Regions from separate parts of the Homo sapiens genome. Here region 1 is reported to be linked to region 2. The links are microRNA targets in miRTarBase. Many come from high-throughput screens and were not tested one by one. Region 2 holds a microRNA gene; the other region holds the end of a gene's coding sequence.
The links. The annotated mature microRNA hsa-miR-561-5p reads AUCAAGGAUCUUAAACUUUGCC and lies in region 2 at 2,846-2,867, opposite strand. An mRNA with a match to its seed (bases 2 to 7 or 8) in the 3' UTR can be bound and repressed. Matches are read on the target gene's strand: a 7mer-m8 pairs with bases 2 to 8, a 7mer-A1 pairs with bases 2 to 7 and ends in A, and an 8mer does both.

Region 1: miRTarBase lists SLC37A3 as a target of hsa-miR-561-5p. Seed matches in the 3' UTR shown: 7mer-A1 at 2,939-2,945.

Annotation. Positions count from the first base shown.
Region 1 is chr7:140,332,120-140,336,119 of GRCh38, forward strand. It overlaps SLC37A3 (solute carrier family 37 member 3), which reads right to left. Exons shown (of 15, transcript NM_207113.3): 15 at 1,633-3,385. The coding sequence ends at 3,293. Among named protein-coding and RNA genes, the nearest start is that of SLC37A3, 64 kb to the right of the region's middle.
Region 2 is chr2:188,296,233-188,300,383 of GRCh38, reverse strand. It overlaps MIR561 (microRNA 561), which reads right to left and starts at 2,892; the gene lies at 2,796-2,892. All of the region lies in intron 1 of GULP1 (GULP PTB domain containing engulfment adaptor 1), which reads right to left. RefSeq lists enhancers at 1,148-1,442, 573-1,772.

The DNA.
Region 1 (4,000 bases), not on the chromosome of region 2:
TGAGGCTGCAGTGAGCTATGATTGTGCCACTGCGCTCCAGCCTGGGCAACAGAGCAAGACCCTGTCTCAAAAAAAGAAAAAAAAAAAGGGAAAAGGGAAGAGGCACAAAGGACTGAGAGCGTTGCACATTCTCCATCCCACGGAACATCATGAGGAACAGCAGCTCCTCCAATACTGCTGCAGGAATGCTGACTGTGGCACTCTGGTTCCTCGGGAACCAGGAAAGGACAGAATAAGCAGGAGTAGGGAGAGACATTTCCTCCTTTGAAACTGTAAGAAAAAAAAAAACCACCTTCTGAAAAGAAAAGGCAGACCGCAGCATTTTATTTCAACCTAGCGAGCATCGACGATCTGGCTGTGAGGAAAGGATGCATTTTCAAATTAGCTTTCACTATGGTTTTCTCTTCCCTTCTCAAGGGAGAAGATATTAAGAAGAAAATAAAGTGAACTCTTAGATGTTCATCAAAGTTAAATCCTGGCTGGGCACGGTGGCTCACATCTGTAATCCCAGCAATTTGGGAGACCAAGGCAGGTGGATCACTTGAGGAGTTACAGACCAGACTGGTCAACATGGCGAAGCCCCATCTCTACTAAAAATACAAAAATTAGCTGGGCGTGGTGGCGTGTGCCCGTAGTAGTCCCAGCTACTTGGGAGGCTGAGGCAGGAGAATCGCTTGAACCCGGGAGGTGGAGGTTGCAGTGAGCCAAGATTGCACCAGTGCACTCCAGCCTGGGCAAGAGTGAGACTCCATCTCAAAAAAAAAAAAAAAAAAAAAGTTAAATCCTGTGCAGACTGGCAGAACTAGAATAAGGGAATATATCCTTATTTCATGTTGTCCAGTGCTGAGCATTGATTTGTAATTTCATTTTACGCAGGCCCAGTGGCTCATGCCTGTTATCCCAGTACTTGGGGAGGCCAAGGTGGGAGGATCGCTTCAGCCCAGGAGTTTGAGACCAGCCTGGGTAACAGTGAGACTTCGTCTCTACAGAAAATAAAAAGACTAAAAATAATTAGCCAGGCATGGTGGCGCACGGTCCATCTACTTGGGAGGCTAGTCCCAGCTCCTTGGGAGCTGAGGCGGGAGGATCGCTTTTGACTTCAGGAGGTCAAGGGTGCAGTGAGCCATGATCGTGCCACTGTACTCCAGTGTGGGTGACAGAGCGAGACTTTTGTCTCAAAAAAATTTTTTTAAATGGTTTCATTTCAGTACAGCTCGGGGGCCATAGAAAGGTCAGGGGAACAGTCACCGATCTAAGGTTCAACTGGGTAAGAAAACATTGGCTGGCGTGGGGACACAAAGATGAGACCACACCCACAGTGCAGCCGGAAAGGAAACTCTGAGCCAAACGCCAGCCAAGAGGTTCAATGAGAAAACAGACGGCCCTTAACTTACAACCGGGCAATTCATCCAAACCGAGCACAGTCTTCCACAGTGGGAAAGGGCAAGTTTTCACAGAACAGATGGAAATGAAGCCACCCCAGCACCTCAGGTGAGGGAGCACGTGACCCAGCAATGCTGTGGGTCAGCGTGGGCTCACCCGGGAGCGCTCAGTATCAGGAAACATGAGGGCACCGATCACATTCTAAATCTCAGTGCTCATGGTATATAGATTTAAGTAACGAAATGGAGATTCATTATAAAAGTCAGTTTATTTTCCCTTTCTGTGTTTCGTATTTTCCCTTTTTGTCAGTAAATGAGCAATACACTGATTGGAAATCTGCATGATTAAATAACATTAACAAGTTCATAAACACACCCCATATCAGAGTATAAAGCAAGAGGTTGAAAAATATCCCCTAACCGAATGCAAATTAGGTATCCCTCAAAATTGCACATTCTCCTCCTAGTTTGCTTGCATAATTTAAAATATGTATATACAGAATGATCTTAAAATATTGATAACTAGTATGGAATTCACAGCCCTGAAGATATATATACTCTACATTTTTCTAAAGAACGGACACCCCTCAGGCCCTAGTAATCCATTCATGTGATTCAATGTCATGTACAGACAGTCCTCAGCTTCTGATTTTTGGACTTTACAATGGTGTGAAATGGTTGCAATTTCAACATAATGTACAATATTCAATAAATTACATGATATATTCAACACTCGATTATAAAATAGAGTTTGTGTTAGATGATTCTGCCCAACTGTGGGCAATTCTAAGTGTTCTGAGTACATTTAGGGTGGACGAGGCTAAGCTGTGGTGTCCAGTCAGGGGTATTAAATGCATTTGACTTCCAATGGGTTTACTGGGACATAACCCCATCATAAGTCAAAGAGCATCTGTACTTGACACTTACTAGAAGAAAAGGTCTTTCCCTTTTCTCTAATTCTAGTCTTCTGCTGAGGTAACTCCAGGAAGCTGCTTGTGCCAGAGATCAATCCTCTAAAAATAGACTAAGCAGATTAGCTTCCTAGAGGATCCTAAGTTCCCAGACAACAAATCTGGGATGGAGTGCTTCGGCTGTGAGTTACACGTCGGAATGTTCAAGATAAATGATGTACCTTATGGTCCTTTACACGTCAGAATGTTCAAGATAACTGATGTACCTTATGGTCCTTGAAAGGAAGACTCAATACTTCCAGGAGTCAAAGTTAATTTGAATGAAAATGGAAGAGAACAAGTTGACAATAATTTGAAGCAATTCATGCTTCTAGGGCTGAATGACGTTTAGATCAGACACAGAGTGACTGAGCCAATCAACAGGCATGTAGTGTGATCTTTCCCACCACAGTGAACAGAGGGATTCTTTGTCCAAGGCAGGCTTGCAGCTCGGTCCAGCTTGAGCATTTGATCAGGATTTGATGCTTCAAAGATGACCCACTCTCTGTAAACTCATTACCAAAGCAAAATGCAATGATCTCTTCCATTTGTGGAACATACCACCAACACAAACCACGCGTGGCTTTGCCTCCTGTTCACTCCATTTTCAAGGCTAGAGAAAGTTCAAGTCCAAAACAACAGTTAAGGTTAAAACGCTAAACCTCAATAGGCCAAACAAAGACGCGGGCAGAGTCAGAGGTCAAAGATGCTGGCAGAGTCAGAAGTCACTCGGCACATTCATGAAACAACAGCAAAAATCATCAACAGTAATTCCTGTAGTGTAGAAAACTAGTGCAGCCTTCACTGCTGGTCAGCATCTCAGGTGGCTGGCAGTGTTGAGAGACGCCTGACAATCCAAGATCAGGCTGGAGCTCCTAGACAAACCCAAATTAGGGCAGACTCGAAGCCCCAGCGGTCCTGATGTGGCTGACATTGTTCTTTCTGTCTCGCGGGCACCGGTCACTCCCTCAATATGTGAGCCTGTCTCCTTAGCACGAGAGAGAATATTTCCCTCACTATTAATGGCGAGATAAACACAATTGTACAACTTGTCTGTAAAGAGAAAATAGTATTAAATATGCAGCAACAGTTTACTTCTGTTAGAGTGTCATGTTTTGAACATAATAATGGATTTGGACAATTACATTCATTTTGACTTCATACAAAGATAATGTTTAATCTTCAATGAATTAGAAAATGATTTTGAAAATTATGGCTAATATTACAAAACACTCAACATCACATTTCAGTTCCCAAAAAAAGAACAATACATACAAATAATTTGCCATAGGCGGAGCAGAGAACTGAGACCAGAGGCTCAGATGAACAACAGTGATCCTTATAATAGATAAAAGTTTTCTTTCTACTACAGTTCCTAGTATGATCACATCAGAAAGTTCATCACAAGATACTTCCCTCTACTTAGCATGGATGTCAGAAATGGAACACAAGTTACATGGGCCCAGTCTTTAGAAGCTAGATGGGAATTAGATGAAAGCTCCAAGGTATTCCTGGAGCTGGACTATCCTGGGGCTCCTTGACCACAGCAAGAGGACAGCTGCCTGGAGTACGGGTGGTGGAAGCTGCCTTCAATTACAGTGCCCTGGATTTGGGGACAGGATACTGAATGCGTCCCTGGTGCCTTCCAGACTCTCTCAGGTAGACCTG
Region 2 (4,151 bases):
TCAGAAAAAAATTATTTTTTCAATATTATTCATAAAAATTGTTAATACTGGCACAGTTACTTACTACCAAGTAGATAACTATTTAACACATCTGTTCTTTATATATGAAAAATAAACAAATATAAGACAAGATGCAGAGCCAAATCATAACTCCTCCCAATATAGTTAATGCTGTGATTAAAAATTTTTTTAATTTGCATGTTCTGAAATTAAATATAAATATGAAATCGAGAGCACAACCTACTCCTTGTGATTCCAATTACATGCTGATCAGGTCTGGAGAAATGGAAAAAAAGAAAGAAAAACAAGATGGTTGTTTTGCAAGATAATCCAGCTAAAATTATTCAGCTAAAACTATTAATCCAGCTAAAACTCCTTTATGTAATTACTAATGGTTAGTTCATGAACATGGAAACATAAAGGAGGAACATCTCTATAACTGTAAAATCCACAAGTTGTTCTCCTAAACCACATTCATGGCTTCATGCCTTCTTGCCTATCCCACCTGCTCTGACTGACACTGTCCCTTTTCAATGCCTGCCCAACTCATCCTCATCCTCTGTGACTTGGTCTAAGAATCACCTGCACACATTCTTTCCATACACTGCTTCCCTTCACACTGGTGAATACCCGCTTTCCCCACTCCTCCTTCCTCAACATCCTCTGCACTGTACCTCAGAATTATATAGAAATACCAACTTCTATTTAAGTTAATAAGAGGAGGTCTCTGTCACCTACTAATCACACAACTACAAAAAGAACAAGTGTTATTTGATAAGTATTTATTAAATTCAACTGTATCATATCAGAATCTCTTTATTTGCAGATGCACAGTTTAAACACAGTTATATTTCCCAGAATGAGAAGGGGGGAAAGACTTCAAATGTATATTAAGTGAATGGAAAATCACTGAATAAAGACAAAATCTCATTGAATAAGAAAGTCCCAAAGAAAGATTCATTACATTGTAGGATACAGTAAATTCCTCTTCAAAGAACCAATATGTTAGTATATTGAGCTTCCCTGTTCTTTGTTTTCCATTTGAAAGTTTAACTTCCTCGTTCTTTACATCTCCTTGTCCCTAGCTTTAGTAAACAACCCCCTCCTAGCCTCTATCACCTGCTCTGTCCTTAGTCATCCTTAGTCACCTGCTCCCTCCTTAGTCACCTGCTCTGTCCTTAGTCATCCTTAGTCACCTGCTCCCTCCTTAGTCACCTGCTCTGTCCTTAGTCATCCTTGGTCACCTGCTCTGTAACCGTCCTTCCCACCAAAGCTTCTCACCCCGCCACTCCAGCTCATACCCCTGCTGTCTTTAAAATAGCCAGTTGGAATTATCTTAGACTGTGCGGTCCAACCCTACCCAATAGGGGAAAAACAAGCAGTAGGGACTAGCTGCATTAATAGTAAGATCCCCTTCTCCTCCCTTGTCTGGTGTGCTCTTGCCATTGCTCCATCCGTGAGAGGCACCCTTTTATAGAAGTAAATTGCCTTGCTGAGCAAACTTTTGCCTGAGTGCTATATTCACTTGGCAGCACCGAGCATTTACTTCCAACAACATCAAGTCTAAAATGTTGTTCTCTAAAACCTCATCTGTACTACTCTAGAAAATTTTATTTTTCCAAATTGATCATGAATTTCCTAGTCTGCTTAATGTAATCAGCTAAACCTATGATAACTCAGATTTTACAAATTTAGTAGTTCTTCCTTTAAAATGACTAAAGACATTAGCAATATGAGACCTCTTACTGATTTACTGCTAAGAAGCTTAAAGGTTTTTCTCCTACATATCCAGTCATGGTGATGCATTAAAACAGAAAAAATAATTCATAAAAATTTAAAGCAATAGCCATTGTTACTCTAAAACAATGCTATTTTATAAATCTAAAATACCAATAGACTTTTGCCATTTCATATTGCATTTACGTAATTTCAAATAAAATTTGTTTACTCAAATGTGACTCCTTAAAAATTCTCTCAAACTATATTCTGAGATACTACAATCCATAAACACCCTCTAATTATATTTAATTAACATATTCAGCATAGAGATAAATTGCTTTGAAATTAATTCAGTTATGCAATTGTTCTTTCTAATCAGCCAAACTTTCTCTGTATTTATTTGCACTACTAGTAAAGTTCAGTGTTTATGTTATTGGACATCTTTATGACTATAATAACACACATCATCAAGGAAGTAAAAGGAGAGTTTGATCATCAACCAAAGTCCTTTATTACTACACAGTTCCTCAAAGCAGACAAAAATAAAATAAATTACAGAGCATAACATGTAGTTTGACCTTCAAAGATACTTTACAAAATACTGTTTCTTAAAACTCTCATTAGTACTTATAACCCTATGTTTTAATTCACCTAGGTTGAAATCTGGGTAAATGAACCTATTTGCTATTAAAATTTTACTTAAAACATGGTATCTCTTGATGGTTATAAATGGCTATGAAAAAAATTGAGAAGCTAAAATCACATTTATTCTCTTATTTCAATTTTTTATCCCAAATTTGCACGTTTGCTACCATACTACAAATGTTCTGTTTGATTTTTTTTGGCTAAAATTATATTTAAAATTGATATTATCTAATTTAAATACAAACCAAATGAGAACAATAGTTATCACCTCATGAAATATTATACAGCTATAAACAGGCAAATCATTAATGATTCAGTCAGTAGATTATGTATGCTCTGAAATGATTGTCTTTATTTCTATAAGAGGGTAGACTGAAGACTGAGCCCACAGTATTCAGTCTCCTCTCTTATAGAAATAAGGATAGCCATCCATGGTTCCCCCAGGAACTTCAAGGATCTTAAACTTTGCCTTTGTAGCTCTGGCAAAGTTTAAGATCCTTGATGTTCCTGGAGGACTGGTGGATGAAGTTTCAAGAAATGGATCAACTGTAACACCTAATATTAAGAAAAAGCTGTACCATACCAGGAAAACACTACATTTGTATAAAATTCTCACTTCACAATACCTGATAAACTTATCAGTAGTATCTAACTTCTAAGTAGTGAATTTACCTTCTTACAGTAGTTAACTGTACATGTGCTTGTGTTCTACTTAAGAAGAGTAGAAAGGGCTTCCATGAGTATGCCATCATTAGAGCCTACAACAAAGAATGTAGGTAGAAGATCTTGCCAACTATTTTTCTCTTCTTTCGGAGGTATAAATAGAAGTCTAAAAACACTTTTAGAATTTGGAAAAAAGAAAAAAAAAAGGATTTCTAGGATTTCTAGCAATACTTATCTGGGAAACATTTTTAATTAGTTGTTAAAATTGGGCTCAAAAATATCAATTAACTGAAGCTATTTTTCCCTACAGAAAAACTATAGCACAAATAGAGAAACATCAAAGAATATATATGTATCATAAGTATGCACACACAGAAAGGGAGAAAGAAATGGAGACAGAGAGAGAGACAGACAAAGAGAGAGAGAACGACAGAGACAGAGAGACAGAGAGAAAGTAGTCCCCCAAAATATGGAAGTTTCTAAGGTCTATTCTGAACTTCTTCATCAGGAGGTATATGATACAGCTGATGTATAGGTACATTTATATAATGTTAATAGCAAAAAACAAACATGAAATAAAGGCAGGTATTGATATCTAGATGCACTCTCTTAGTTGCATCCTAGAAAATACATACAAGGCTATTCAAAACTTCCTTTAAAAAGCCATATTAATCTTTGCAATTTAGCACAAAATATACTGAAAATCTTAATTTCTATATAAGTTAACTTACTTATTCATATTATGTGTGCAAATTAGGGCAGCCTTTTCAAAACTATTTTTAAGTATACTACACTGAAAGACAAAACTAATTTCAAATTCGCCATAACTATACCATTTCAATGTAAACAGAAAATTGACACTTACTATCCCACACAATATTTGAGTCAATTAACTGTCCTCTGATGACAATCATGCATGGTAAGCATCATTAGAGTGGCTGAAAACATTTCTTAGGCATAAAACAAACAAAAAACTCGCAAATAACAAGGGCCTGAAAACAGTATAAGCATTGTTTTCTAAGTCTTACTCTGGAACAATGACTTTTAGCCATTCTCTTTAAAAATAAAGGCCTGATTTCAATTTCATATCCCCAGTATTTGAAAGTGAAGCGATTTCTCCATTC